4 linked regions of the Homo sapiens genome follow. The protein of the gene in region 4 purifies or fractionates together with the protein of the main gene of each other region. This does not show direct contact. Each region holds a gene or a part of one and is shown on either strand. Other genes may lie near its edges. The genes, in order: WRNIP1, CLINT1, MMP2 and OSBPL10.

What was found.
Region 1: the proteins of OSBPL10 (region 4) and WRNIP1 purify together in Homo sapiens (affinity purification with mass spectrometry; one large-scale study listed by BioGRID and IntAct). This does not show direct contact.
Region 2: the proteins of OSBPL10 (region 4) and CLINT1 purify together in Homo sapiens (affinity purification with mass spectrometry; one large-scale study listed by BioGRID and IntAct). This does not show direct contact.
Region 3: the proteins of OSBPL10 (region 4) and MMP2 purify together in Homo sapiens (affinity purification with mass spectrometry; one large-scale study listed by BioGRID and IntAct). This does not show direct contact.

The regions. Positions count from the first base shown.
Region 1 is NC_000006.12:2,776,933-2,784,731, reverse strand, and holds part of WRNIP1 (ATPase WRNIP1), read right to left. Parts: intron 5,470-7,799; coding exon 5,240-5,469; intron 1,327-5,239; coding exon 1,171-1,326; intron 409-1,170; coding exon 329-408; intron 1-328. UniProt on the Homo sapiens protein: Functions as a modulator of initiation or reinitiation events during DNA polymerase delta-mediated DNA synthesis. In the presence of ATP, stimulation of DNA polymerase delta-mediated DNA synthesis is decreased.
Region 2 is NC_000005.10:157,805,727-157,813,525, forward strand, and holds part of CLINT1 (clathrin interactor 1), read right to left. Parts: intron 7,502-7,799; coding exon 7,337-7,501; intron 4,080-7,336; coding exon 3,902-4,079; intron 387-3,901; coding exon 140-386; intron 1-139. UniProt on the Homo sapiens protein: Binds to membranes enriched in phosphatidylinositol 4,5-bisphosphate (PtdIns(4,5)P2). May have a role in transport via clathrin-coated vesicles from the trans-Golgi network to endosomes. Stimulates clathrin assembly.
Region 3 is NC_000016.10:55,482,198-55,489,996, forward strand, and holds part of MMP2 (72 kDa type IV collagenase isoform 1 preproprotein), read left to right. Parts: intron 1-711; coding exon 712-938; intron 939-1,818; coding exon 1,819-1,967; intron 1,968-3,101; coding exon 3,102-3,230; intron 3,231-3,406; coding exon 3,407-3,580; intron 3,581-6,345; coding exon 6,346-6,519; intron 6,520-7,453; coding exon 7,454-7,627; intron 7,628-7,799.
Region 4 is NC_000003.12:31,675,549-31,683,347, forward strand, and holds part of OSBPL10 (oxysterol-binding protein-related protein 10), read right to left. Parts: intron 1-7,799. UniProt on the Homo sapiens protein: Probable lipid transporter involved in lipid countertransport between the endoplasmic reticulum and the plasma membrane.

The sequences.
Region 1 (7,799 bases), on a different chromosome or scaffold from region 4:
AAAAGAGATGAATATGAAGCTGCTCTGGGGGCGAACTTGCAGAGGCTTTGCTGTTCAGCTCCTTTAACCTTTCTGCTCCCTGGAACATATGGAGCATGTGCTCTGAACCCCGGAATCCCGAGAACAGTTTGAAACATGACCTCGTTGACACAGAAGGTTTCCCTCTCTAGGAGTCTAAGAGTCTACAATTGGAATTCCAAAGCCAAGCAGCATACTCAGTGGGTCCAATACACCAATGGTGAAGGAGGGACATTTATTCAAATCTACAAAGGGACAGAGCACGAGAGAGAAAAGAAGTGATTTGCAAGAAATGAGCTGATTACTTTACCTCACATTCAGGCATGCCTATAAAATGACAGCCTTGGTAGGCAGCAACCGCTTGTGTTAACGCAGACGGGTCTGCCAGACCTGCCACACACAGAGACAAAGGAGAGTTTCAGTCATGACACACACTGTCCTCCTGGCCTATGTGCAGGCGACCACAGACCACCACTGCTTGTACACTTGGTGACCAAAACAATCCCATGTAGCAAAACAGCCTGACTTAGCTCTAGTCTCTGATCCCATGAACTTATGCAAGAAATATTGAGAGTGGTTACTGTGTGGTGTTAAGAACTGTTTCCTTGTGGATAAAAACTCTGCATCTAGAAAAACATGAGTCTCTGTATAACAAACATAAGAAGTGAAGGCTATGGAGACATTCACCAGGATGGAAACACTAAAAACAAAACATCCCCTAAGACCAAAGAAGAGGAGAGCTTTCCTGATCTTTTTCTTCATATAGTGTCTAGAGTCTTCCATTTCTACCTTGGGAGCTGTCCAAAGAAAACCTTGAACACCTGACTTAAAGCAAATTTAAAAGCAGCTCATCTATTGCAATACTCTGAATAGCCACTCATGTTAGTAAAAACATTCCCGAAGAGGAAACAGAAAATGGTGACTTTATGAACATAAACATTCAAAAGCACATACACCAGGAAATAAACGACTGAGCTCAGGCATAAAGTCTTATCTTCTCCTGCCAGTCTCACATAGCCCTGAGACATTCTTCCTGCTACCCCCGCCCACCCCGCCCTGCAAAAAAAAAAAAAAAAAAAGCCACGATGTAACTGTTAGCCATTTCCCCACCCTCATGGACATAGGACTCCGGGACCCTCCCATCACACTCACCTATGTCCTCGCTGGCAAACCTGACAAGCCTCCGTGCCACGTAGAGTGGGTCCTCTCCTCCCTCGAGCATGCGAGCCAGCCAGTAGAGGGAGGCGTTCTGGTCTGAGCCCCGCATGGACTTGTGCAGGGCGGAGATGCAGTTGTAATGCTCCTCACCTGACATCACAAAGAGCACCACTCACACAGAGCTCACAGGAGGGGCGCCCAAGCCATCTTCACCTCCGCCAGCTGACTTCCAGAAAGCCTGAACGAATAAAGGCCCTGAGAAAGCCGAGGAGAGGTTTGGGCAGCTGCCTTAACCGTGCTCTGAGTGGGGTGCACCAGCTGCTGGGGCTTAATCCCAGTCCTATTCAGGGGAAGAGGCTGCTGCAGCAGAAACCTGTGGCTGTCGACATGGAGTGCACGCACACGCACAGAGGCAGGAGGGAGGAAAGGTGGTCCTCCCAGCTGGTGGATTTGCCAGAGACAAGAGTGGAGGGGGACGAGTCTTCTGTTCTGGCTCTATCCCGTGGCCCACCATCTACTGGAGGAAAAGCAACGGTGGGCCTGCTCGGAGCCAGGAGGATGTAGAGCCAAGTGGCAAGGGCAGCTGTTATAGCCCATCTGTTCCTCAGTGTCATTTCCAGCTGCCTTTCTGATATCCGAAGCCTGTGGTCATTTAAACCTCCTTCTGCCAGCCTTGGTGTGGGGACACCTGTGTGGCAGGGTCCCAGAAGGACCGACACGTGGACTAACCAGCTTCCGCCCTGAAGTGGACGGAAGCCCACTCTCTCACCGCCTGGTCTTACTACTCCATTTTTACCCTAGATTCACATGAAATCAGTGAAATGTGCTTTAAAAAAAGGCATATTTAAGGGCAAAAAAATGACAGCTAAACAGTTCTCAGGAACTAAGCAGTGGCACCTGCATACATTTCACTATTCTCTGGCCATCGTCCCTTAGGTAAGTTCAAGGAGGGGGCACCCTCCTCACGAGAAAGCGGAGGATGGTGTTCCCGTGAGTCTCACTCCTCCCAGAGGAGCACCTGGTCTGTGCTCAGCATAAGCCCATGTCCACAATACGACTGGCGCCAGCCACAAACCCTGGCAGCTGAGCTCGCTGGTAAGATGACAGTTGGTCTTCAGGTGGAGAAGAGAGCAAGCGAAGATGCTGGCCTCCCACAGGGGAAAGACCTGCAGGACCCACGGCTCAGCCTGAGTGATTCTGGTTTCTGAGAGCCAGGGCAGATGGATGGGTCAGCCCAGCTACTGGATTTCTGAGAACAAACTGAGTGTCTCCTGTGCAGGGCTCCCCTGGTGAAGTCAGAGTGCTATGGACACTGGCCGAGAGGGTGTCCTGGATGACATCTGCATGGTTCTGGCCCACTCCCTCACCCTGCTGGCCCAGGCACTCAGGCTACGCTCTGCTCCTCTGCAGGGTGGAGGAAGGCGGGGAAGAGGGTAGCAGGTAACAGGCCTGGCTAAACTCACGGGCATGGGGGCTGGAAGAAACTACCCACACCACTTTATGTCAAATTTAAACTCCCCCTACACAGGTTAGTCATCTTTTCCCACTTTGTCAATGCCAGGGGCAATACCACCAGTATAATGGACAAGAGCACAGGCTCTGGGACCAAACAGCCTGGGCTGGACCCCCAAGCTCATGGGCCATGGGCAAGTTCCTGATCCTCACTGTGCCTCAGGTTTCTCATCTGTAAAATGGGAAAAACGAGACCACTTACCTCACAGGGCTGTATTAAATAACACACGCCTGGCACAGAGCAGGCACTGTAAAAAGATTCTTTTGCATCAGTGATAGATACTAGTATTATTCTATGCTACCTTCCATGTTTGCTTTTATTACACACTGCTTTATAACCTGAAATCTGACGACTTCTATAGAACCCCGATGTCAATGCATGGCAGAGAGTTTGCTCTCATTTAGAAATTCCTTCACTCTGATGCAGAAACATCACTGGATCCTACTAGTGGGTAACTATGAACTAGGTGGCATATACAAAAATAATCACAACTCTGGGGGTGGGTCTTTGTCTCACTGGAGTTATAAAAAGGCCCAAGAGTATAAGCTAACAGGTTTCCAGGGCAATGCTTCCACTATCCCTATTTATAGAGCAAAGCCTGTAAAAGCAGCTTTCTCCAAGATCTGAATGATATTTATGTGTCTGCGGATCCACTGTGGGGCAGACATGTTGCACTGGGGTGGGGTGTGTAAACACACTCATACTGGGAAGATGTATAGGATGTGGGGTTCTTAAGGCGCTGGCACTAGGCAGCGGCACTAGGCAGCCTCCACCACCCCCCAGCTCCAAGCTATAGACAAGGTGATCCCCACTGTGCAGAGCTCTGCAACGTGGAGCTCAGGAAGTGGGATTCCTAGGACTGAACCCCTCCAAGATCCGCTCTGTATGTGCATGGACGGGTGACCCCTCTCAGGAGCATGATGTAATGGGTGAGATCAGTAACAGCATGGCAAGGCTGGTGTGGAGGCAAATGCGGACGGGGGGAAGGACAGTCTTGGGAACCAGTAAGACCTGGATTTACGGGTCAGTTTCACCACTTGCTTTGTTATCTTAAAATGGGGGTAATATTAATAGCTATCTCCATAAAGCAATTTTGAGAATTTAAAAAATGAATACACCTATAAAATACTCAATGGCTGAGTGTTAGTGAATGCCATGTTATATGGATCTCAAGTGACAGTCTGATAAAATGTCAAAGAACAGTCCTAGTCGTTCCAATCAAAACAAGGCAAATCCTTTGGGACACCTACAAGAAGAGAGAGAGAGACCGCTGCTGCTGCACTTCAGAAACAATGGCGATCCCGGCATGGTGAGATTTTTTTAATGTCTTAAAATCTTTTTTCTTGTTCATATCTACATTTTTTCTATTTGACCAAAAGTCAAGCAGGGCTCTACACACCTAGAATGTGTTGCTTTTCAGACTTTGCAAGCATTCACGTCATGCTCCAGAGCACTAGGGAGAGCCAGCCATCTGAGCAGGCCCCGCTGAGGCACATTCACGTCACAATGTAGACAGGATTATTTATTCAACTTGCCAGTGTGTCCTTAGCACTAATGAACACCCCTGAGCTACCATCAGCTGAGGCACGCTAAAGCCAAAAAGCTTTGGTCAGCCCCCCTAGGTCATGCAGCGAGTGTGCTCACCCACGAAGAGGCAGCGCTTGGAACCAAAGTCATTCTTAAGCCCCTCCACCCCTTCTCTAACCAGTAAGGACTCTCCATTGTCACGTGGCACAGCCTACGTGAGATCAGGAACATTCAATTATCAGCCTCCTTTTCTGGCAGAGCTTTGAAAAGTGTGGAAATTATATTCCACAGTTACTGCAACATGATTCCATCCAAAGTCCCACAAATGCTCAAGCAGCAGAAGTTTGCTAATCTACAGTATGTTATATTCATCTCCCACTTCTTTTATAAAAAGATGCAAATGTGCTGTGCTAATGACATTTAATATTGCTAAGTCACAGATTTAATAAGAGCTGGTATCAAATCTGCTATCTGTAAATGCAGTTCTACAAAAACAGATAAGTGCACACAGCAAAATTAAATTTTTGAAAAAGCTACTACATAAAATAAAAACTTCAAGATCCATGACTATTTTTTAGTATAGACTCTAGAAATAAAGCATTTTAATTCTCAATTAAAACTAATAAGTCATTATGACAAAAGTCCTCTTTTTATTTACTGCCGTTGTAAATGATCACAAAACATATTCATTGTCAAGTGAATGCACAGGCTTTCAAAGGTGATTGTATTCTGCAAGGTGGGGAATAGCCAACTACCTTCTAAGGTGAATGTGCAGCCTGCCATTTCCAACCCCAAAACTCCTCTAGATTCTCAACAGGGCAGCTTCTGCTTCATGCCTCTCTTCGGAAAGGTCAGCCCTGTGTAGAAGGCTTAATACCAACATGCAGATCCACCTGAGAATCACTGGAATGCTCTGGACCCAGCTGGAATGCTTCCGGAACCCAGTCAGGCTTCCGGAAATGAGAATGTGTGCACACACTTCTTTCCGTATGGTTTCACTCTTTCCACAGGTGAATTACTTACCTGCCCGGTCATATAAAATGTGGGATCGCTGTAGGCCCTCCTTCACGTCATTCTCTGTGATCAGAACTCTACTGGGAGAATAGGATTGCCCACTCTTCTTACAGAACATCTTCCTAGAGCTTAACCTAGCCAGCACCGCCAGCTGCAGTCCGTTCAACCCAGCTCGGGCGTCACCGTCACTGAGGTAAGCCAGGGTGTCTACTGCTTTATCCTCTATGAACATGGCGGGCCTGAAACACAAGCAGGGTTAGTTACGGTCACACTCAGGCTGCATACTTCTTGTTCTGCACATGTCTTAGAAACTCATACTTCTCAGCAAGGACACTGAAGAGTTCAAGGCCTTTGCCTCTTATTCTCACCTTTGTCAATGTGCTTAAGCATCATCAAGACTACGAACTGACTGGGGCTCCTAAGTCACCAGGTTATCGCCCTGTATCTTATGAGTGTCGAGGGTATCTCACTGCATAGGTTCATACATCTAAGTCTGTGTGAAACAGACACTGACTGGCCTGGAAAGTCACTGTTGACAGGTGGTCTCTCTGGTTCTACCCTGCACAACAGTGAAAACTTTATTAGAAATGCTAGCACCTCATTACCGTGTATGGAAAACATGTTCCAAATGCAGCCTACATCCGATGAGACAGATGTGCTTAGACCACTTTCCACACAGGGGAGAGTCAGCATTATATCTGAATATTAGCTCTGAAGGGCTCCAGATCATGCAGTTCAATTCCTTCATTTTAAAAACAACAAATTGGGTCCCTAGTTACTCTGAGCACAGCAGGTCCTAGAAGCAGGTCTCAGGATTCTCTTGGCCTGGGGAATCTTGGGATGCTGCAGTAGGTCATCTCATAGTGGACACTAATCATGCAAAATCCGCACAGGGTAGCAGAGAGGTCATTAGCCTGGGAAGCGACGAGAAGACTGCTGGTACATAGCCATGAGACCCTGGGTAAGCCACCTAACCTCTCTCTGAACATCAGGACTAAAACTTACAGTCACATTTCTAAATTTGGACCCTCATAAATAAGATCTAACTATGATCAGAAGGCTGACTCAGTAAAATTTTCTATCCCTAGTTGAGTTAAACAAGACATCTAACACATTTCATAACTTAGTGGGGTCTTATTCCTGGCTGAGCTGCTAGCTGCACATTTGTGAAGCAAAAAAATAAAATTTTTCAGTTACAGTTCACCCATGTCATCAACATTCAGCTGAGAACATCTACAGTAAATAATAAGCCCATTAGGACTGTCCGAATCAGCTACCTGGAAAACAATGTACAGGCACCAACGGGGCTGGGCCGGGGAGGGGTGGCAGTTTCCGAAGGGGACCCAGCTTGCCTGCTGGATCAATGCAGAACTCCTCAGCATACACCCACTCACTGACACTACTCTGCTCACTGAGTAACCCAAATAACACCAATCTGCATTTCATTCACGGAAGGATTTGTTCCCAATGCCTTAAAGATGCCTCATCTCACCCCCATATTTACCAAAGTTGATTTCCAGTTATTCCTTGTGGGTCTCTCACCACACCTAAGACAACTGGCCAGCCCCAGCTTTACAACAAATGACTCTCTCCTCACTCATGCCAACTGCCTGGGCCCCAGAGCCAGTGGTGCAGCCTGGAGACCCATCTTCCTCTCTCCTGATGGTAGCATTCTCTCAGCAGACCTCACCAGAACAACAAAAAAACAAACACCGAGGCCATGTCACTGGCACTCTATAAAGCCTGGGGATCACTGCTCAACCAGAAATTAGTTAGCAAGTCTTCTGGAAGATGATTTAGAAGATAATGATGGACAGAACATATACTAAAGAAAATGTATGGGGAAGGACCAGCATCACAGGGGTGTAGCAGTACGTGACATGCCTGAGAGGGAAGGGTGCACTCTCAGCCCCTTACTGCACTCAACCTGTGTGGGAAGACAGGTAGGGAGAACAGAAACTGCTTGGGCATCTCATTTCTGCCTCAGAACTAGTAAAAACAATGGATTCTCTCTCCTTGGAAAGCTGCCTAGCAACAAAAAGCCTTCAGGACAATTGAGGGAAGAAAAAGGAGTCAAAGCAGGAGCCCCATTGGATCCTAACGGACTGAACTAGCCTATATCCTGCACCATGGGTTGGATTGTGTGTTGATTACATTACATTCATCATCCCTACTATGCGGAGCACCTCAAGGAGAGGAATATTTTATTCTTTGTATTCCCAGACCTGGTAGATGATAGGCATCCAATATTTGCAAAATGAATGGACTAACTTCAGTTTTATCATAATCTCAGAGTGAAACCTTTACTTCTTATAAATTATATGGAAAGTATAGAGAAAACAAAAAGAATCCATATTTCCAGCACTGAGAGATAAAAATGTACTTGATATTTCCAGCAGAATGAAAGCTACTGTGCCAAGTGCTGACTTTACGATCCACTCACCCATGCAACCATCAACCTTACAGCTAACCTAAAACAAAAACTGGGACCATATTTTACATAGTTTTACATCCTTAACCATTAAATAATTGTTTGAAAAACAAGCTACTCAGACCTGTCAACATTTAC
Region 2 (7,799 bases), on a different chromosome or scaffold from region 4:
TGTCTCTTGGTAATACATGCCAGATGATCCATAATTAATATGATTGCCTAGAAATGCCCAAGCCTACTAATGCAGGAATTCGAAGAGCGGTTTATAAAAATAAAACCATGTATAATGTGTAAACTACTGCCATTCCCACCTTAACTGAAGACTGAGGTGTGTGGGTTGAAGCATTCTGATCTGGACTTGCTTTGTCCCCTGTGTAATGTGCTGCTGCTCCAAGATCAATGGTTTTGGAAGGATTTGCTGTGCGCTTGTGTCTGGTTGTGGTGGTCTCTGTGGCCTGTGTGATATGAATATGCTTTGTCGTCACAGTCTCCTCTTCATCTTTGAATTCACCTTTGGGAGATCTGCCTCTTCTCGCTTTCTTTTCCTCATCGCTGTCGCTAAAAGATATTAAAAATGAAGCAAAATAATAAGACGGGATTATTTTAAAATGGGTCCCTCAGTGATTTGAGCTAAAGAATTTCAAATACAGTAACTCCAAAATTTCATACTTTGACTACTTGACAGGGATCAACAGAATGTTATCTAAGCTGTCTGAATAATGATATATGTGCGCTGGGGAGGGGAAGTGGAAACACAGAGAATATCCTATATAAGTCTAAAATACTGCTACAAAAAAGTATTTACATAAATGTGTATAAATAAAAAATGTCAAAATAACTCGTTTTTATTACAGATTTAAGCTTAACTTAAAAATAAAATAGGATTTGATATCAGAATCCATGATAAGACCCTGAGAGTTCAAACACTTGCATGTGATGATTATTTTCTTGACATGGACTGTGTGCAAATTACTATAGTTCCACTTTTACAACACAATTCTGCATCAACTCTCAAAGACTAATGTGTGTACATAATAAAATAATAAAAGTTCAATGGATGCTAAAAAAATCACACATCTTAATTCGAATAATTAAACTCATCTGTAAATGCATGAAAATATAAGGGAATGCACTTTACAACTGTGCTATTTTACTATAGTATCAGGAGATCAAACTTTTATATAACTATAGAAAATGCTTTCTAGAAAACAACTGTATTTAAAATATTTTAAAGATAATTCTCCTTCAGCCACATTCAACAATTTTTTCTTTCCTTTTTCTTTAATAGTGAAAAAGATTTTAAAAACTAAACAGTAAAAGCCTGGGTTTTTCATATGCTAGGAATGAAAATATCAGCCCTAGTCTGTTCTCTAGTAACAAGTCATTGGGTTTTTTTCTGATGTAAGTAGGAGAGAGAGAGAGAGAGAGAGAGAGAGCGAAAGAGAGAGAAAGAGAGAAATGTTACTTGAAACATGTTCCATTACCTGTATTACTTAATTTTAGAGTAGGTGGTTTAATTTATAAATATTCTGGAATATAATGTTTAAAATTCTCCTTTAAACTGCTGATGCAATTTACCTCAGACTGAACTATAGCAACTTGTACTTAAATATAAACCAATCTGGAACTTGTATAAATCAAAGATCAAAAAGAATGACTTCCCACACAGAGCAAAGGGGTTAAATATATTTTTATATATAAACATTTTAAGGAACCTACAAGTTCTGATACGCATTCAAAAGCCCTTACTAACTTCTCAACAACAAATGACCTGAAGATTCCCATTAGTCCTACAAGTAAAACTGAAATTTCTTACTTTTTTGGTGTCCAATTTTATTTCAGCGCAAAATAATTTATTCACAAGTTGAAAATATAAATCTGACTAGCACACGATGAAATGGAAGCTCCATATCTGATCAATGTTCAAGAATTCCTGAATGTAATAGTGAACTAATAAGTATGAAATTCAGGTAACATGCCATCAGGATTGAGGTCATATGCAACTCTGTCAAAAAATCTACTCTTCTCTCACAAATACTTTAAGATAAAAAGTTCCTGGTGTGCCCTATCATTATCACGATAAATCATGTTCACTGCATTTTCACTCTTTTAAACCTAAATACTCCTTAAAGATTTAGAAACTCTAGGAGATCCTGTCTTAGAGGCAACATAAAAAATAAAAATCATGGGAGAAACAGAAATAAAAGAAGAGTAGAGAGACAAAGAAAAGAAAAACTAAGGATAGAAGGGCAAAGGAGAGAAAGTAACAATACAGAACACACACAGATATCTAACCAGCCTACATAGCGTTATTGTTTATAAGTAAAACCTAAGACCCAACCAGACTGTGTGGATCTGCCTAAAGTAACACAGTTAGTGGTGGAACTGAGCCTGCCCTGAAATGTCTCTTTTTCAAGACTGTTTGAAAAACTGGAATGTGATCTTTGAAGAGCTAGAACTTATTTTTAGCACTTTGAATAAATCTATTTTACAAGTATATATCTAGCTTTTTTATACTGAAAAAGGATGCATATGATAATTATAAATACTAAACATTGGGAGGGAAATGGTGCCCACTTCAAATATACAGAGCTGTTTCCCTCATTAATGTTTTTGTGGCCTGTGTAAGTTTTGGCTTGGTTTGGAAAACATTATTGAAATTATGGCCATTATTCTGTTGGTATTTCCTGAACAGGCATTCCAGGGATTTAAAAGATATGAAAACATCCTAAAAATACACTAATTAGATTGTATTTTTGTTTGGACCTCTTTTTAATGATCCCTAATTCTGAACTATTAGGATTTTTGGCGCAGGGTAAAGAAAAAGAGATGGCATTTAGTTACGAGAACTCACTTGAAGGCTTGGTTCCATCACTAACTGTGTTATTTAGGCAAGTCCACACAGTGTGACTGGGTTTTAGGTTTTACTTATAAACAACAAAGACAAAATTCTTATTCTACTCTAGTAGAGATATTGTGAGGCACAAATGATAAAGGTCAAATTTAAAAAGTAAAATTTGCTCTGTAAATTAAGTGCTATATGCATTACCCTTTACATTCTCAGAAAAATTGGTTTATAATAATATTGGTAAGTAAGAACAAAAGTGACTGCTGCAAAGCTCAAAGTATTGTTCCATGTAAAACTAAATACCATCAGAAAATGTAGTTTATAAAAATACAGCTCTATTCTCAAAAACTGGTTCAAAATCCATTTGGATTGTTTTTCTGGTACACACTGGCACAGAATCATAATGAAATGTCAAGGAAGCATTAAATTTCAAATCCTTTGACTTATGTTTAATTAAACTTAATATATAAACTTCATTATCCCTCAGTATCTTAGGTCCCTGGATCATCTAAGGTCCAAATGCAAAATAATCTATACAAGTTTTTACTGGGGAAAAAAATCCAAGGAAAGACTACTAGCTTGAATAAAAATACACAGGATCAACTTCAAAAATAAGTAGACAGAGGCAACATGGAAAGTATGTCAATACTAATTGCAAGTAGTGTATAACCTAGTATCTTAAAAATAGTTGCACAGTGCTTGCTTCAGCAGCATATGTACTAAAACCAGAACAATACAGGGAAGATTAGCATGCCCCCTGTGCAAGGATAACTTGCACATTTAAGACTTGTTCCACATTTCTGCACAGGGCATATTTATGGCAGTGAAACTATTCTATACAATACAGTAATGAGGAATATTATGCATTTGTCGAAACCCATAGAAGTGTACAATATAGGAAACCCCAACGTAAACTACAGACTTTAGTTAATAAGTGTATCCATACTGGCTTTTCAATTGTTAACAAATGCACCATAGTAATGCAAGATGTTCACAGAACCTGTTATGAAGGGGAAGTGGGTATATGACAACTCTGTACTTTATGCACAATTTTTCTGTGAGCTTAAATTGCTCTAAAAACAAATGAAGTCTATTAAAAAAAAAAAAAAAGGCCCAATTTCAGATAATGTTAATACCCCAAACAAAACCAACAAAAAACCAAAAACCCAGTGGCATAAATTTAGGGCTCTTTCTAAGAGACCCGGGAGACAAAGTGGTAAAATACCTGCATCTTTCTGGAGAGTCTTCTCTATCTTTCCTCCGGAACTTGCTGATGGTGTCATCAATTGTGCTTCCAATTTTATCACTCAGCTCACCTAATTTATCACTGAATGGAAAAGCACTCTTGTTTTTATCCCACTCCTCATCCCATTTTGATTTGGGCTCAGGATCATATCTTTCACCTAGATAGAGCATTAAAAAAAGAAGCAATTCTAACGACATTAAATTCAAAAGGTATCTACAAGTCCTTATTTCTCAGGCTTTTCCTCATAATAAAATCATTTTCAAAGGAAAACAGAAAGCTCCCACAGTGCTGAATCAACACAATTACAGCAAGGCATAGCATGTAATGCCAGTCATTAAGTGGCAGGAATGCAGATTCAAAAGCTTTTGTTTATGAATACTTACACAACCTTAATGCACAGCACAGCATATCAGGAAATTCTTAAAGGCTACTGAAAGGAGTAGTGGAAAACACAAAACCAACACAAGCTATATAAGCAAAAGAGAAATGAAAATCTTTCTGTTTTCACAAAAGACACTTAATATGTTATATTTTATTCCTGTCCCTTAATGGTTTCCCAATTTTCAGAAAAGCATTGGATAGCAACAGTATCTTAAAAAATACAACTGAAGGAACTCCAATCTGAATGCTACATGTCCCAATAAGCTAAAAAGTCTCAATAACTGTCACGCCTCAGTATCAAACTAAAAAAATAATTCAATGAATTTTCAGGGGATGGGAAAGCATTCCGTAATTACTGTACAAAGAAAGGATTACTCTAACTACCAAAAACTACACATACTAGAATCAGGAAGTATGCTCAAACAGTAGTTCAGAACAGTGTCAACCAATTCAAACACCCATTCCAAACATATGCTGAGACTGGCGAAACCTAGAGCCTCTGTGTGAATTTGGGAATGCAGAGAATAGATCGTGGCAGTAAACAAAAAACCCAAAATGTCAAGATTTGTTTTAGTCCTTGCCCCTAGGGACCCAAAGGAGACATAGGAATTACAGACACAAAATGAAACCCTTCCATTTCCATGTCCAAATCCAACTTAAGAAGCAACAGTAGAAGGTACAGAGAGCACGTGAGGTATTTTTAAAAAAGAAAACATTAAAAATTAAGGCAGGTTGGAAGAAAATGAAAAGGACAATGAGAAACAACAAAATAACTAAAAAGTGGCTAATGGAGCTTTTGTTTTGAACTTTTGTTTACAGGATCTAAAAGGATACATAGCCTTTGGAGATTGAACAAAACGATTTTGCTGAATTGCCTCCTAAAATTGCAAGGCTAAAATTTTCTGTTACATGTTTAAGGATTTTAACATATTTACTGAATCTGGAAATGACCATCAACTTAAAGAAAACATGACAAAATGAAGTTTTCTAGACAAAATTTAAACCAGGATGGTTTTTTTAAAAAAAGTGATTTTCCAACAATGTGTATGTACATTTCAACAACAGTGTGATGAACCAGACTTCGGAAAGAAACAAATTTACACGAAAAATGGAAGTGGATGAAAACCAAACTGATTAGCATGGCATGGTGAACATCATACTGAATTACTGCTAAAGATACTGGATATTGGCAAGACATTATCTAATGTCAGAATGAAAAAACACAAAACTGGCCGGGTGCGGTGGCTCATGCCTGTAATCCCAGCACTTTGGGAGGCCAAGGTGGCTGGATCACTTGAGGTCAGGAGTTCAAGACCAGCCTGGCCAACATGGCGAAACCCTAAAAATACAAAAATTGGCGAGGCATGGTGGCTCACGCCTGTGGTCCCAGCTTCTTGGGAGGATGAGGCAGGAGAATCACTTGAACCCGGGAGGCGGAGGTTGCAGTGAGCTGAGATGGTAACACTGCACTCCAGCCTGGATGACAGAGCAAGAATCCTCAAAAAAAAAAAAAAAGAAAAGAAAAAGAAAAAACACAAAACTGCTAAGAGTGATTAGTTAAGTCTGAATAACATAAACCATGAACAATAACTTAGCAAAAGGATGTGATGCAAACACACAGGATATCCAACTCTATCTTTAATACAGATGCTGCAGTTAGTGCATTGTGACTGAGTTTGAAAACGTATTCAATTTTCTAAGTTTAGCTGATATAATTATATATCATGCTGGCAAAAAGAAAGATACAAGCAAGAATAGTGTGGAAATAAGTTTCAAATAGCAATTTCTATTAAAAACACATTAAGTTGCTACAACTACTTTGAAAAACCTGAAGAATAAAGTTACTACTTGGGTAAATAATCCAAAAACTTTGGACTTCCCCAAATAGAAACTTCAAAACATTATTTATATGCTTTAGGAGAAATATTTTTGCCCAATTCAAAAACTAACTTGTGGCCGACTCTGGTTGCACTGCCTATGAGTTAGCCCTATTTAAAAAAAAGAAAAAGAAAAAACTAACTTGTATTTGATGCTTCAATATAAAAAAGGGAATTTTTCTGCTGTTAGAAACATCCTTAAACAGCTAACTAAACGCAGTGTTTTTTCTTTGAGAGTGGGAAAGCAGAGGAATAAATGAGTAAGGATATTTTATATGTTAAGATTTTTACATGGTTCCATTGAAGGAGATATGAGAGCTCAATATAATCCAAATATAAACATATATGGGTGGGGGGAGCTGGAGAGCCTCAGTGAACAGCTGCTAAGATACACAGCACTGGCCAGTCTGCACATACACAAAATGAGCAAGAGATTGTCAGAGCTCACAGAAGACAGAACAAGTCCAAAGGGACATGCCGTGAAAGACAGTTCCTATTTTGTGTATCTGCTTCAAGCACCTATGCCCTATTTTAGAGAAACTATATTATTATATTAAAAATAAACATGAAAGATGAATGTTCTAGCTGCTCTTAAGTGTACTGGGAAGAATAAACAAAACAATAGGCCTAGATGAAAAACTGCGAGTATCGTCAGTCATCTTTTATATGTCAAAGTATGCAATGCTTAAATAAAGAAAGAGAGACTGAGGCTGGAATGACTGTCAGGAAGCTTATCTGGTTTGGGCCAAAAATACAGCTAAATTGGTTTCAAATTAGAAAGATGGATCTCCTGATCAAACTTTTTATTTTTATACTCTAAACTCTGAGTTATAGAAACTTTCTTCCCCCTTCTTTTTAAAATGGCAATCCTAAGAGGGAAGGGCATATATCTGTTTTAATCTCTGTATGACACCTCAAAATATGCAGTCATTTAATTAGCCATTAATGGTTAAAATCCTATTGCCGAACCCACAAGTTAAAAATAGGAAGATTCATGTGATAGTAGAAGTCAAGATTAGTACTGCGTGTATTTTAGTATTCTATGTATTCCTAGAAAAGAAAATTAGCATTTTGGTCTTTGGTATTTCACTGATTCTTAAAATATACTCAAGAAGCTAAGCTGATGCTTAGGTGTCAGCTTGTCTTTGATACTCACTGTATCTGAATCCTCCAACACTGTCTGAGGAAACCCCAACATACTTGTCTTTGTTCTTCTTTGCTTTCTTTCGCTCTTCACGAAGCCTGTCGTCATCCTGGGCAAATTCAACCAATTCCTTCACCTTCTGTCGAATATTTATACCTTGATCCTTACCATGCTCATCTATGAGGATGGTAAGAGATAAGCAAAACCTAAGAATTCACTTAATATGTATCAAGCTCTTTAAGATTAAAAAAAAGACACAAAAACTTCAACATAAGAAACTTCAATATTTAAAAAACAATAGAAAGGGGCAAGTTGTGCTATTTAACTTTGTCATTTCCTCTTCAGCAAATTCTAAGTTCTAAAATGGAATTTTGGCTTATAAGAGCATGTAAAGATGAACTAAAAAGGACCACAGATAATGGTACTATGCAAGGTCAATTAAAGATTGACCTAAAAAGGATTACTGATGATGACC
Region 3 (7,799 bases), on a different chromosome or scaffold from region 4:
GCTCCCTGAACCTCTGCAGGGACCTGCTCAGTTTGGGCCTCAGTTTGGGCAGGGCCAGTTGTATGACTCATGAAGGACAGGACTACTTTCTTTTTGCAAATGGCTGATTCAGGATTTAAACCCAGGTCTGTCTACTGCCAGAGCCCATGCACATAGTCCTTGAATCTCTTTAGAAGAAAACAGGAGGAAAAAAGTCCCCAAGTCACCAGCCGCAAGGTAGATAAATGAGTTGATAGAGGTAAAGGAAGGATGCTGGAGTATAATGATTCCATATCACAGCCTCTGGAGCCAGATTGCTTTGTCCCAAATCCAGATCTACCATTTGTGAACTGTGTGATCGTAAGCAAGTTTCTTAACCTCTCTGTGCTTCAGTTTCCTCCTCTGTATAATAGGGTTAGTATATCTACATTACAGAGTTTTGAGCATTAAATGAGTTAACATATTCTGACTTTAGTGCCTGGACATATAGTCAGCACCCAGCACCAACAAGTGGTAGCCATGCTCTCTATAGCTGTATGTCCTGTCGCTCAACTAATGGGTGACCGTGCTGGTTTGGGAACCCAGTACTCCACCCAGTGCTCTGGGACCCCTGGCTTATTTCCTGTCTGGACTATGGCACTGGGTTGGGGGGCTGATTGCTACAGCCTGCTTTGGTCAGTACTGTGCCATCCTAATGTGGCTAATTGCCTTGGGGGTGTGCATTTCTTTCAGCAATACCTGAACACCTTCTATGGCTGCCCCAAGGAGAGCTGCAACCTGTTTGTGCTGAAGGACACACTAAAGAAGATGCAGAAGTTCTTTGGACTGCCCCAGACAGGTGATCTTGACCAGAATACCATCGAGACCATGCGGAAGCCACGCTGCGGCAACCCAGATGTGGCCAACTACAACTTCTTCCCTCGCAAGCCCAAGTGGGACAAGAACCAGATCACATACAGGTGCCGGGGCAGGGCTTGGGGAGGCAGGGCCATGGGGCTGAGGGACACGAGTCTCCTTGACCCATGCATTCTCTCCACTCAGGGGATCCATGAGGTGTCTTTTGTGAAGGCTTGACATCTTAGGGAGTTTCAATACACAGTTCTTAGAAAATGAAGTCAGACAGACTTGAGTTTCATACTTGCTGGCCATGAGACATTGGGTTACTTTTCAGTGCTGTGAATGTTGGCTTTCCAATCTACAAAATGGGGCTTAAAAAATGCCCTTATATGGTATGTTGGGGAACTAAGCTAGGCTGAACTAATACAAACGGCTTCTATGATTTTTGACACAGAGCAAGAGTGTAGTAATGCTAGTCATTGTTATTGTTTTTAGATGAGGTCATTGGGATGGGCAGAAGGAACGTGATGATTGGTAGCTAATTGGGTTTAGCAGCCCAATTGGGTTATAACTGGTTGCTAATTGGGCCAAGAGCTGTGCTCTGTATGGGTGGTGCTGGGTTCCAATGGTGGGATCTTTGCCCTGTGCCCCATAATGCACTACTTATGGCCCTCCCCCACCAGCCAGAAGTGACAGATGGAACTCCTGAGCTGGGGCCTAAAAATGTTGGCTGGCCTGGGACTCCCTGGGTCTTCAAGGCATTCTGGGAGGGTTGTCCTTGGCAGTGAGCCCTGCCCAGCCTACACACACATACACGCAGGCACATGCTCACATATACATACACATACCTGTGCACCCTTCCCGTGCTTGTGCATATACTTGTATGTTCACATACACACACACACTCAAACTTTTTCATACATCTGTGCACACACACATACTTGCATATACATACACTTATGCACATGCATACACACTCACATGCAGTTCTACCACCTCCAGGATCATTGGCTACACACCTGATCTGGACCCAGAGACAGTGGATGATGCCTTTGCTCGTGCCTTCCAAGTCTGGAGCGATGTGACCCCACTGCGGTTTTCTCGAATCCATGATGGAGAGGCAGACATCATGATCAACTTTGGCCGCTGGGGTAGGCAGAAGATGGGGCAGAAGAGGGGCCAGCAGGGATCAGTGTTGAGACGAGGGGGTGAGATGGACATTAGAGGGGCGTGGGGATCCTAAGGGCGGCTTAGATAGGACAGTAGATGGTGTGGGCCCTGGGGGTGGTTTAGATGGGGGCAGCACAACACGGAGTGGACACTGGAGAGCCACGTTGACATGGGGGCAGATGGTGTGTTGTGGTATAACCTGGAGGCCGTCTAAACCCGAAGCAAGTGGTCTACTGTGCTGTCCAATATGGCAGCCATTAGGCAGAATATACATGGCTGTTTAAATTTAAATTAGTTAAAAATTTTAAATTAGTTTCCTGGTCACACTGGGCACATTTTAAGTGCTCAAAAGACACAGGAGGCTAGTGACTATTGATTTTGGACAGCACAGACAAAGAATATTCCTCTTAATCACAGAAAGCTCTGTTGGATGATGCTGGTAGACACTGAGGAACTGTAGATATATGAGAGTGGTTTGGAAACAGTGGAGCAGTGTAGACACTAGAGGAAGGGTCGTAGAACCTGGGGCCAGGTGGCCATGTGAGTTTATGGTGTGAACACTGCCAGTAGCACAGACATAAAGGTATGTGGTATAGACACTGAGTGGTAAGTGATGAAGGTAAAGAGCAGGGGAAACAATGTAGACAAGTGGGTGGGTGGTACAGGCCTTGGTGACAAGGTGGGCATGAGGATTCATGTTGCAGATATTGGTGATAGTGTGACATGAAGGCAGGATTGTGGTTAAGAGGGCAGTATTGACAGGATGGAGGATGGCATAGACACTGGGGATGATGAAGATGGGGTGAGGACACTAGTGTGGTAATGTGGGTATGTGGTACATATAGTGTCATGGTGGTAGAGTAGACAATGGAGGTAGAGGGTATGGATACTGGGAGTCATGTAAACCTGGGAGAGCAGTGTAGACCATAGGATGGTAACAACCAGGTCAGCAGATCTCTACTGAGCTCCTGTTGACAGTCCTGGATAACCCCACTGGGACAAGGGAAGGGGACAGATGCTGGGTGGGCTGACAGGCTCCACATGTAGATGGGGTGTGGAGGGGTTTCAGGGTCTAGGTGGCACAGCTAGACGCTAAGACCCAGTGTGTGTTTCAGAGCATGGCGATGGATACCCCTTTGACGGTAAGGACGGACTCCTGGCTCATGCCTTCGCCCCAGGCACTGGTGTTGGGGGAGACTCCCATTTTGATGACGATGAGCTATGGACCTTGGGAGAAGGCCAAGGTGAGAAAGGGGCCCTCTGCATGCCCCAGACCTTCTCTCCTGTCCTCTCTCCACTCCATTTGCTTGGACCAGAGAGGTGGGAGGGGAGGAAAGTCACACATCTGGGTGAGTCAGAATCTTGGTCTCCAAAGAAGGCCTGGAGAAGTCCAACCTCCCCCTTCCATGTCACTCTTTAGTGGTCCGTGTGAAGTATGGGAACGCCGATGGGGAGTACTGCAAGTTCCCCTTCTTGTTCAATGGCAAGGAGTACAACAGCTGCACTGATACCGGCCGCAGCGATGGCTTCCTCTGGTGCTCCACCACCTACAACTTTGAGAAGGATGGCAAGTACGGCTTCTGTCCCCATGAAGGTGAGCATCCACTCTAGTCCCCAAGACTTTCCACCCCAAGCCTCCAGCTTCCCGGGCTCCCCAGTGTGCTCTTCCCTCCACACTCTCCAGGACTGGCTGCCACTGCCAGTTAATGAGCATCCCTCCAACGTCCTTCACTCAGTTCCCCCCCATCCTGATCTGAGCCATTGCTGTTTCTCTCCCACCAGTACCATGATGAACGTAGTACTCTAATTAAATCAAGTTGATTTTTTTTAAGTTTCACCATTAGCAATCATTTAGGAAGTCACAGATTTGATTTGCTAATTATTTATTTCTAATATATATTGGAGTGAACTTAGAACTATTACAATGCCCAGTGGTTCTCTCTAGAACCAGTCTTTACACTTCAGTCAAGATTGATACTTCAAGGGCATGAGGAAAGGCTTGCTGGTAGCTGGAAACCTAGCAGTGTGATAGGGAGGCAGGACTCAGACCAGGGCTGGACTCAACCTGGTTTGCGTACTCCAACTGAGGAATTTCAGCTATTGCTCCTGCCTTGGTCCTGATGCTGCCTCTGCTAATGCGTGTGTGTGTGTGTGTGTGTGTGCCTGTGTGTGTGTGTGTGTGTGTGTGTGTGTGTGTGTGTGTGTGTCTGGGCACGGGGGCTATACTATCTGCCTCTCTTGGGCACTGTCTTTTTCTGCCTCCTGTCTAGCTTGTGTCTGCATCTCTGTGTCTTGATAAAGACTTTAGGCTTGACTCAGTATTTGTGTTTGTGTGCTTGTCAGTGCCTGAGATGCAACATTTCAGAGATTTTGAAGCCACATGGGGGAAATCTTTTAAAATGGGGTACAGATATTGACATACACACTCAATCCTTTTTAAAAATATCCTTGACACACTTAATAGTCATAAATCACAAAAAGACAATGTAACTTCATACTCTATGAAGTCATCATATTTGATAATTCTGCAGATTGAAAGCCCAGAAAACCTGGCGAAAATGGAAAAAAGTCTAAAAATTTTTAACACTATCTTCTTTCCCATGTCACAAAGACTCTATAGTCTACATAGACTAAAGACTGTCTTTTTGTCTGTAATTTTATGTCTGTGAATCTCCCTAACCCCACTGTAACTGAAAACTAAGCACCAACCATCTTGACAGAATGAAAGAAACAAAGAGCTAGTTAATTCCCTTCCTGTTTATGCTTTTACTACCAGAGCTAAACTTTATATTAAGTAAGAGTTTAAGCCATTCACCATTAATAAGTCAGACATTTTGAAATAAAAATATTTTTTGTATCTTGCGTTTCCCGGTAGGGATTACATGTGGCGTTAACCCTTCCCTGTGTCACCCCTCTGATAGGAACAGAAAGCTTTGGTGATAGTTAGATGTGGAAACAGCTGTATTTCATAAATTTGGGAAGGGTTATTCCCTGCATTGGACATTAGCCATTTACTTTGTGCTTAGCCAGATGCAAGTACGCACAACACGCACGTGTCTGGGTCTCGAGGCAGAGATTGTTGTTACTCAGCCCCTGCTGATGGCTGAGTCAGTGTCTGATTCTTGCCATCCTTGTCAGGGGAATTTGGGAGGAGACAGGGGCTTCCTGGGTGGTAGAAATGAGAGGTCAGAGGCAGGGGGCTGGCATTGGTCGAAGTTAACGCTTTGCCTTTCTCAACTCTGAGGCCACTAAGGTATCTGGACTCAGTCTTGCCTTTTCTCTAGGTGCCATTGTTTCTGGCATTGCAGGACAAGGTCTTTTGGTAGAGAGGGGAGTGGTGAGGATACAGGGCCTCGAGTTCTGTGGTGGGAGGCCAGGGACTGGGCTCCATTCCGGCCATGGTGGAGTTAACGGGGGCTGGTGAGGTCACCTCTGGCGCCGTTGTGCACAGATGGTCCTTGTTATGGACTTGTGGTTTTGCTGGTTGGCAATTCCAGAGACACCATTTTTTAGCTTTGGGTGGATGAGGGGAGGATGGGGAGAATCCAAGACAGACAGGCCAGGCTCTGAACCCCACTCCCTCCCCCAACTCTCCATTTATGGCCCCTGTCTTGAAGATGTCAAAGTAGGAGCCCAGAGTGTTTAGTAAAAGGGACCTGAAGGCACCACCTCCCTCTCCCTCCCTCCTCCTCTTCATTCTTTCTCTCCTTCCTACAGAGACTGCAACAAGGCCATCCAGGAAGGGGCCTGGGGTTGACAGGAGGTAAAGCAAGCTTTCTGTGTATGCGTGTGCACGCACACACACATATATGAGAGTGACAGACTAAGCAAGAGAGATTGAGATTAGTGTGTTTTGTAGTTTTTAGTTACAACCTTCATTCACTTCTTTCATTTCTGTGACCATGAGCAGTTTGAGAACCATCTTTGTCCTAGCCTTGATTTCTCCACCTATCAAATGGAGAGAGATTCTCGTGGTCCTGCCTGCCATGACTGATATATTCATGTCATACATCATTATTACATGAAATTTGCATGGTACAGGTGTGGACCAGGCAGAATGGACAGTGCCCTTGGGGCTGAGGCAGGGTTCTAGAAGCCCTTGCTGTGTGCCAGGTGTCAATCATTTTGTTGTTGGGTGGTCCACAAGGTCCCACGGGAGGGATTGGGATAACCAGGGAAGCAGGGGTTCTCTCTGGGAGCTCAGAGAAGCAGCTCCTTACCAACCAGTAGAGATGTTTTCTTAATATTTTAACAATGCATCAACTTCACTGGTGTGAACCGGCAGGTGGGCAGCCAGCCAGCCCTGTGCCCATGGAAGCATGTCTCATTCACATCCTTCCCTCTCTCCCCCACCCTTAGCCCTGTTCACCATGGGCGGCAACGCTGAAGGACAGCCCTGCAAGTTTCCATTCCGCTTCCAGGGCACATCCTATGACAGCTGCACCACTGAGGGCCGCACGGATGGCTACCGCTGGTGCGGCACCACTGAGGACTACGACCGCGACAAGAAGTATGGCTTCTGCCCTGAGACCGGTGGGTGCCACTCCCTCTCCCTCCCTCAGGGCCCAGCACCTGCTGTCTGACAAAAAAAAAACCCATAAGACTCCGAGTGCCCACCTCCTTTCCCCAAGACAGGGGTGCTAAGACATCTGTGCGAATGACATCCACACCAAGATGTCCGTGTAGCTAGTCAGGATACTTGTCACCTGGTATGGCCTGGGCACTGAAATCAGAACAGACATTGGGCATCAACAGTTGAATTGGTGACACTTAAATGTCAGGCCTGCTCAGGATCCTCTGACCGACCTGCATCCCTTTTCTCTCAGGCTCTCTGGCAGAGACTTCTCTCTCCTCCTCTCTGACCCTGCAATCTCTCTTCCCTGCCTTTCCTGGTCTGTATCTCCACCTTTTAGTCTGTTTTTTATTAAGAGCTCCGTGCTTTCCTCCCTGTCTCCTTCCTGCCCTCCTCTCTATCCCTCCCTCCTTTCCTTCTTCCCTTCCTCCAACAGGAATTTACTGAGCGCCTGCTTTGTGCAGCATACACAGAGGTTGGTCTCTGCAAAGCCCTGCCCAAGGGGGCTCACAGCTGAGGGGCATGTGCTGGTGCCATCAGCTTCATCCAACTCCCTTTGCCCCTAGCCCATCTGCCCCCTTCCATGGGAGGCTCATTAGAACTCTGGAATCTGGCTTCCTGGGTTTGAATTGCAGCTCTGATACTTCCTAGCAGTGTTGGCTTAGGGAAATTTCATCATCTCTCTGATCTATTTCCCATCCATGAAACGCGGTGCTATTCAGTCCCTCCTGCACAAGGCTGTTGTCAGGGGTGGGTGAGATGAGTCTAAAGATACAGTGCCTGGGACTGAGTCTAACTTAGGTGTGGTTCATTAAGGTCAGCGTCATGTCATTGCTTCCTGGTGGTAGCCTCAGACTCTTTGCTGCGCCTTGACCCGTATCCCTAACCCCACAGCCATGTCCACTGTTGGTGGGAACTCAGAAGGTGCCCCCTGTGTCTTCCCCTTCACTTTCCTGGGCAACAAATATGAGAGCTGCACCAGCGCCGGCCGCAGTGACGGAAAGATGTGGTGTGCGACCACAGCCAACTACGATGATGACCGCAAGTGGGGCTTCTGCCCTGACCAAGGTACGAGGCCCTGGTCATTGGACAGAGACCCTGGACATTGCCCTTGCCCCTAAACTTGCTCCAAAAACCTTCCTGAGACCTCACCCACTTCAAGCATAGACACTGCCCCCCAGACACCCACCTACCCAGACCCGCCCACCTGGGCTGAGACAATGCCCATCTCTGGTGGAGC
Region 4 (7,799 bases):
CTGCAGCATGGCACACTGCCAAAATCCTGAAGGTTTTATGTCTTAATTACTCCTCATTCTTTAAAGCAGCCCTCTCGATGGGTATCACCAACTGGCAATAAAGAGGAAACTGCAGGGCCAGGCGCAGTGGCTCACGCCTGTAATCCCAGCACTTTGGGAGGCTGAGGCGGGTGGATCACGAGGTCAGGAGATCAAGACCATCCTGGCTAACATGGTAAAACCCCCATCTCTACTAAAAATACCAAAAATTAGCCGGGCATGGTGGCGGGCACCTGTAGTCCCAGCTACTCGGGAGGCTGAGGCAGGAGAATGGCGTGAACCTGGGAGGCGGAGCTTGCAGTGAGCCGAGATTGCGCCACTGCACTGCAGCCTGGGCGACAGAGCGAGACTCCATCTCAAAAAAAAAAAAAAAAAAAAGAGGAAACTACAACGTCTTCCAATAGGCTATACCTGTGAGGGATGGAAGAGACACAGGGCAGACTTTCTCTAATGTAATACTGCATAAGAGATAGCATCCTCCTCCCATTTTTCTTCAGAAAAATCTCTTCCAAATCAAGGTAAAATTTCCCCCAAGTCCTGGGGGAGGTCAGTGAGCCTCAGAGCTAAACTGATTTGAAGGCACTGGCAAGACCACATGCCTTTGGCTTGTTTCTGAAAATCCATAAATGTGTGTTCATTCATCAAATCACCTGCAATTATGCCTTCTTAGTACATACTCTTTTTTTTCAGGGTTGCATTTAAAAAAAAATCTCCTTAATATGAATAAAAGACATATTAAAATTAGACTTACAAATGGGATCACAAATATAAGTTACTTCTTCATTTGGCCTAACAGCTAAGAGAAGCCAAAAAAAAAAAAAACATCAAATAATCAATCCTTCCATGCATCTTCCTCAGGCTGGGAGATCTTCATTTGAAATTCCACAAATTGATTCGCCAATAAAGGCAAAGCATTAAGATTTTCAAACTGATAAACTTAAAATAATTTTGTGTCCAATCTCAATCTGAGGAACCAAAATATTCAGCTGGGACATTCATCCTGGAAAGTAGAGTCACAGAAGGAACTCTGGGAAGTGTGTTTGCAGACCCGGCAGCATTGGCACTCACAAGCCCAGTGGCAATCATGTTGCTTCCTCTCATTAGAACTAACTGTTTTTCCCCACAGACTCAATTAAGAGCCTGCACCATTTACCAGGCATTGATTCAGGCATTTTGAGGGAAGTGGGCTGCAAAGAGCAGCTGAACGCCCCTCAGCTCCACAGCGGTGCGAGGTTGGGAGGGGTGAGCAGCCCACACTTTCCCGTGGACAGAGGTCTTAGGTTGACTGAACAGTGTCGGCTCTCACTGTTAGAGCAATAGAAACGAGAGGGTGGGAGAAAGGGGTGCAGTCTCTGGGGTCAACGTGAGTGAATTCAGGGCATAATGAAGCACTTCATAATAGCATTTCATTACAGTCAAATATGCCACAGCCTAAAGGCCATGATTTAGGAGATGAGCCCACGTATTTACGTTCACAATTCCAAGTGGACCCATGTAAGACCTCATTTTTATAATGAGGAGATGGAAAAAGCATTATTTACACCCAATCAACAAATTCATAGAATATGCAGGAAATATGCGAGGGAAGGGAAATTATCCAACCTCCTGCCTTCCCCCAATCAAAGGAGCTCTGAGTGTGGGAGCCAGAACCTTCTGCTTCGAAGTTTGGAGATTCTTAGAAATAGTTTGTGTGAAAAATCAGATCCTGCATTACAGCGGACACATTTTAATTAATACAAAAGATAAGGGGACGCAGCTACTGAAGGGACTTAGGCAAACTCAAGGCCTCACAAGAACGAGCCAAGGGTCCCCTGGCCATGCCCAGGCCCACCCACAGCAGGAAAACATCAGGTGAGTGGCCAGGAAGGGCCATGTCCAGGAGAGGCCTTTCACAGTCTCTCTCCAGAATCTTCTTTCTGAACTCAGCATGCTATTGAGAAATTCTGAGTGGCATTTTCAAGCAGTTAGAAAAAGTGAGAGCAACAAATTCTAATTCTGCTTCATCTGCAGGCTGCATCTGAGGGCCTCAGGAGAGGGTGTTCCACGGCTTCTCACCCACGACACTGTGGTCCTGGGCTGGGTAAAGTGAATCAAGGGCTCCAGCCTCTGCCTGCTGCCTATGAGAAACAGAGGAGCTATGATCCTGAGACCTCACAGGCCTACCCTGTGGAGACACGGACACTCAACAACGGCCAACATAAGACAGAGCAAAGGCCGGGCGCGGTGGCTCACGCCTGTAATCCCAGCACTTTGGGAGGCCGAGGCGGGTGGATCATGAGGTCAGGAGATCGAGACCATCCTGGCTAACAAGGTGAAACCCCGTCTCTACTAAAAATACAAAAAATTAGCCGGGCGCGGTGGCGGGCGCCTGTAGTCCCAGCTACTCGGGAGGCTGAGGCAGGAGAATGGCGTGAACCCAGGAAGCGGAGCTTGCAGTGAGCCGAGATTGCGCCACTGCAGTCCGCAGTCCGGCCTGGGCGACAGAGCGAGACTCCGTCTCAAAAAAAAAAAAAAAAAAAAAGACAGAGCAAAGATGTTGGTTAGTTCAGGGGACAGAGGGCTAAAAGGACCTCATCACTCTCTCAAGTTCAGCTGCAGAGGCAATGACAGGAGGCCATGTGCTGTGCTGGGCTGAGGGGTGCCCCGTTGACGGTGTGGCTTAAGTGAAACGGCTAGAGACACCAGAGGGAGACAGGAAGGACAAGGGTGCAGGGAAGCAGAGGGAAGAAGATGATGATGAACATGCTGTGTAGAGGGAAGAAGGGAAAGATGAACACATTGTGTGGGGAAGAGAGAATAACCAGCTTTAAAACACAATCACACACGTGACACCACTGCACAGCCACCTCCTTGTCGGAGCCCACCGCTGGTGGTCGGGGACAGGGGAAAAGTGACTGCTATTTGGTAGAGAAGGAAGGATCCTGAAGGGAGAGATTGCGTTTCTGTGAAGAATTCCCTAAATCACCAAAAATGGATTGCAAATCTACCTTTTCGAACATTTCCACATATTTGTCTAATGGCAAGAATTAGGGGCTCACAGACTGGGAGGTATTGACCCTCTACTCCAATTTAAGAATCTGGCTTTCTCAGGCCTTGACAAGCGGCAACAAGCACTTCTGCTGAGTGCAGGGAAATCCCCAGACAAAAGGCATTCTATTCACCAAGCACTTACTCTGACTAATCACAGATTCAAACTGTGTGTGTGTGTGTGTGTGTGTGTGTGTGTGTGTGTGTGTGTGTGTGTAGGAGGGAAGAAGAGAAATAAGAAACAACTTGCCTCTCTGCTTCTATCTTTGCACTGGGCCCTCTCCACTTCTGCCTTCAGTCTATTCTTCACTCAGCCAACACAGGGATGCTAAAATCATGTCTACCCTCAGCGACTCCCATCTCAGAGCAAACGGCAAAGACGTTCCAGAGCCCCAAAATCAGATCCCAAAATGTGGCCTCTCCTCTCTGGCTTTATCTCCTCTCTTCCCAGCCACGCACTCACTGCTGCAGACACAGTGGCCCCTGGCTGTCCTCAAAACACCCCAGCCACTAGCTCCCAACTTGGGGCCTTACCACTTGCTGTTCTTTTTTGCATAGAAGACCCCTTCTTAAACCTGCTTCAGGCCTTTCCTCAGCTGCTCTATCTTGCTGAGGTCCACATTATTGAAAATTGCAACCTCCCTGCCCCAGCTTCACTCTCCTCCTTCCTACTTTGTCTCTTAGTGTCAGTCATCATCCATCACATTGAGGACTTCACGCACATGTCTTGTCTTCTCTCCGACCCTCCTGTTGGAGCATGAGCTCCCGGGGGCAGGGAATCTGTGTGCTGTGGCCTCTGCTGCATCTCTGGCATCAAGGATGGTGCCAATCACTTCACAAATAAATGGATGAATGGATAAGTGAATGGGTAAATGACAGATTTATTCGAGCCACCACTGTTACCGATAAGGAGGTAAACATGATTAAAATACTAACTGTAGAAAATGTGTAAGGAATTATCTCGCATATGGGGCATAAATACAAAGTGTGAACTGCCTTCTCTACCTTCTCTGGCAAACAAACATATTTCATCTTCAAAATATTTATTATGTGGGAAATTTAGAATAAGGAATAAAATTAAATAGAATGAGATGAGTCTCCTGAATACCAATTTTTGTTTTTAAGAAAAGGAAAAGATTTTTTACCAATATAAACCTCATAGCACGAGCCAAGCCCAAAGCAACCTATGAAAACACAGAGCCCCAGATAAGTCAAAATCAAGATTAATGTTGCTCCCATTTCTTATTACAAACTCAAGTATAAAAATCAATGTGAACATAAACCTCCCACAGGGGAGTCCTTGGCAATCTTCTCCCTGCTTTCAATAGGAAGAGTTACCCGAGTATTCTAACCGGAGCTCTTAGTTCACACAACTTCAAGAGTCCCCAGTCTGGGCTGAAACACCTTTTTGAAACCTGCCAGGGGGCTTTAACCCAAACAGTGCTGCACGGTGGTAGCTCCCTGTCGCTTCATCCAAGGAGAAGGCAGAGTTCAGGAGAACAAGCAGTCACTGGGGTCAGAAAAGAGGCCGGTGAGGAAATACCTCTCGTTCCTCTAGCCCTGCCCCCACAGAAGCACACTTGAATCAAGTTTGTTTTCTCAGTGTCAGAGAGAGGCCTCAACAGCCCTGGCTGTGTCCATATAGGGCTCTAATCGCCCTTGACCTGATCCCCCTTCCCCGGCCCACCGCCTGCTGCTCAACCCTGCTCCTCTGCTCTTCCTGGGCTTGTGAACTCAGGGGGCTGCCTGAACCTCCTCAGATTCTGGTATCTCATCCACAGGTCAGAGATGAGCTGAGAAATGGCCCCTGACTCAAGGAGACCCCAGCACCTGCCCTGCATCCCCCTTCAATGGCTTGTGCTGAGGGCAGGATGGATACTGTGAATTATGCATGGGTTCCTAGGCAAGCTGCCTCTCTCGGGCTCCTCATCTGTGAAATGAGGATAGCTGGACTCATCCGGGGTCTGCTGAGCATTCTGAAGCAACAGAACCCTTTCGGAAATAAACTTGTATAGGGAAGTCCCTCTGGTAAATAGGTAAGGATGGATGGAGATACTCGGGCTGGAGTGGACTTGGAAGAACACCAACCTTGCCACTCACTTCCTGTGCCCCTCTAAGGAGCCTGGGATTCTCTACAGCACAGCTGGAAACCCTGGAGCATATGGTGGACAAATGCCCTTTCAGCTACAAGATTTCATGGTCCAGTCATCACTGGTAACAACTCCTCTTTAAGAAGAGAGACCACTTCAGGCATCCATCTCCCCTTGTCAACAGCAGGAAAAGCCAGACAACCCAGTCATGAATTGGGATTTTTCTAATTGGAAAATAGTTGTAATACTGCACTCTTACAGAAGATAACCTAAGAGGAGGATAATACTCATTATTGATGAGGTTTATCTAAAGATAGATGTATTTTTACATCTTTCCCCCACAGATACAACCCACCTCCATCTGAATTGTGGAAAAGGCCTAAACTGGGTGACCCAAGATCATCCTGGTGACAGGTGTGTCCCTAGCTTCCTACACAAATTAATGAATGTCTCATTGGTGAACTTCTTGATCCTGATTGATCCTTGAGAGGAAGGTGTGACGAGTGCAGCATGAGCTGCTGATTACTAGACCTGCATGCAAGGAAGACCCCAGTGAAGGCCCAACACGAATGCTGAGTACACCTGTGGGCACTCTGGAGTTGCCATCTTACCTATGCAAGAGGGGGAGCAGCGCTTTGGGGTGTAAACCTAACAGAGAAGTGGAACCCAAGAGTGGCTATTTTCCAAAACAGTACCATTGCATGCAAACCCTAAATAAGGAGGAACTGTCCACATTTACAGTCCCTAATTCCTCTCCTTCCTTCTCTCTTGACTTTATTCTAGTCAGATTTTCACTAGTGCTACTCCACTGACAACTGCTGTCAAGGTGACGAATGACCTCCATGATCCAAAATCCATGATCCCTTCTCAGTTCTCATCTTACTGGAGTAACCAGCATCATGTGATGCAGTTGATCACTCTCGCACTTTGAAGCCCTTCTTCACTTGCCTCGCAAGGAGCACCTTCTCCCATTCCATTCAGTCTACTTCTCTGGCCACCCCTCATCAGTCTCCTCGGCTGGCTGTTCATCTTGCAGACCTCTTAATGCTGCTTAATGCTTCAGAAATCAGTGCTCACTCAGCAGTCTCATTAGTCTCAAGGCCTTAAATATTTTATCTCAGCCAGGACCCTCCCTATGAAACTCCAGCTTGCATACACAATTGCCTACTTTAGCACTCCCTTCAATGACTAAACCCTAACAACCGCCCTGAGCTCCCATACTCTTCCTTCAAAGTAGCCCAATACCCAGCCCTCAAGTCTCCCCATCTCAGTTTTAACAGCTAGTCCATCCTTCTAGGTGCTCAGGTCAAAACCTTGGCAACACTTTCTCTCACACTCCACATCCCATCCAGAGGCAGATCCTCTTGGCTCTAACTTTAGAACCTATCCAGATCCTTACTACTCCACTACATTTACTTCCTCCACTATTTTCCACCTGGTCCAAGCCACCATCATCACCTGCTTAGTTATTCTCACAACCTCCTCCCTAGTCTCCTTGTTTCCACCATTACCCCCGCCCAGGGTCTGTTTTCAACAAACGGCTGGAGCAGTCTTGCTGAACTATGAGATTGAGCCTGGTACTCTCCAGCTCAAAAGCACCAGTGGCTTCAGGGCTCCCTCACTGTAAGAGCCAGTGTCCCTAGCAATAGCCCATGAGGTCCTATGTGATCTGGCCACCATCACCTCCCTGACCTCCACCTGCCCCTGTTCACCCTGCTCCAGCCACATGGGCTTCCTGTCTCCATCCCCGTGCCAGGGACATTTTACCTGTAGGCCTCTGCCTCATTCTTTCTGCACACAAACTCTTTCCCAGTGACCTATAAGGCTTGCCTTACCCCTCTTTGCCCGCTTTGGGTCTTTGCTCAAATATCACCTTAGTGAGGCCTTCCCACTGGCCAGCTCATCTGAAAGCTCAACTGCCCTCTCCCTGGTCTTCCCCGGACCCCCACCTGCTTTGTTTCTCTACAACACTTACCATTCTTCAACTTACCACACAATCCATTTTATTTACTTATTTATTTCATTTCCCCGTGAGAAAGAAGGAGAACAGAAGCATCATCAGAACAGATCTTTTTTGGTCTGTTTTGTTTGCTCAAGTAACCACAGCTCCTAAGGCAATGCCAAGCATCTAGTAGGTGCTCAATAAAAATGTGCTAAGTGAATGAAAGGTGCTCTTATCTCATGGGGTTTTGGAAGGGCTTCTAAGGAGCCATGTACTCCCTGAAACTCAAAGACAAATTTGGAGTTAGATTCCTTTTTTCTAGGAAGAGAATCACAGCCTTAGAGCCTTGAAGAGATTTGTGACTCAAAAAAAAGTTGAAGAACCAGTAACACAGATGCTTGAATTTAACAAGGATTATTATAGGTTTCTTCAAACAATGAATAAACTTCATTCACAGCTATTTGCTAAAATAAGAATGTGTGATCCACCAGTGGCGTGATTATACTATGTTCTTGCTTCAGAATTTCCAGCATAGAGTCAAAAGATTTGTTTTGGGAATTTTTACGAGCAGATTTTGAATAGGCAGCATGATTATCCTCATTGTCTGTGAGCCAGAACACCGGTGAGAATGAATAAAAATGTGTTTTCACAGATTTGGAGGCCAACTCTTATATTCATGCAAAGCTGAAAGAAAACAGTAC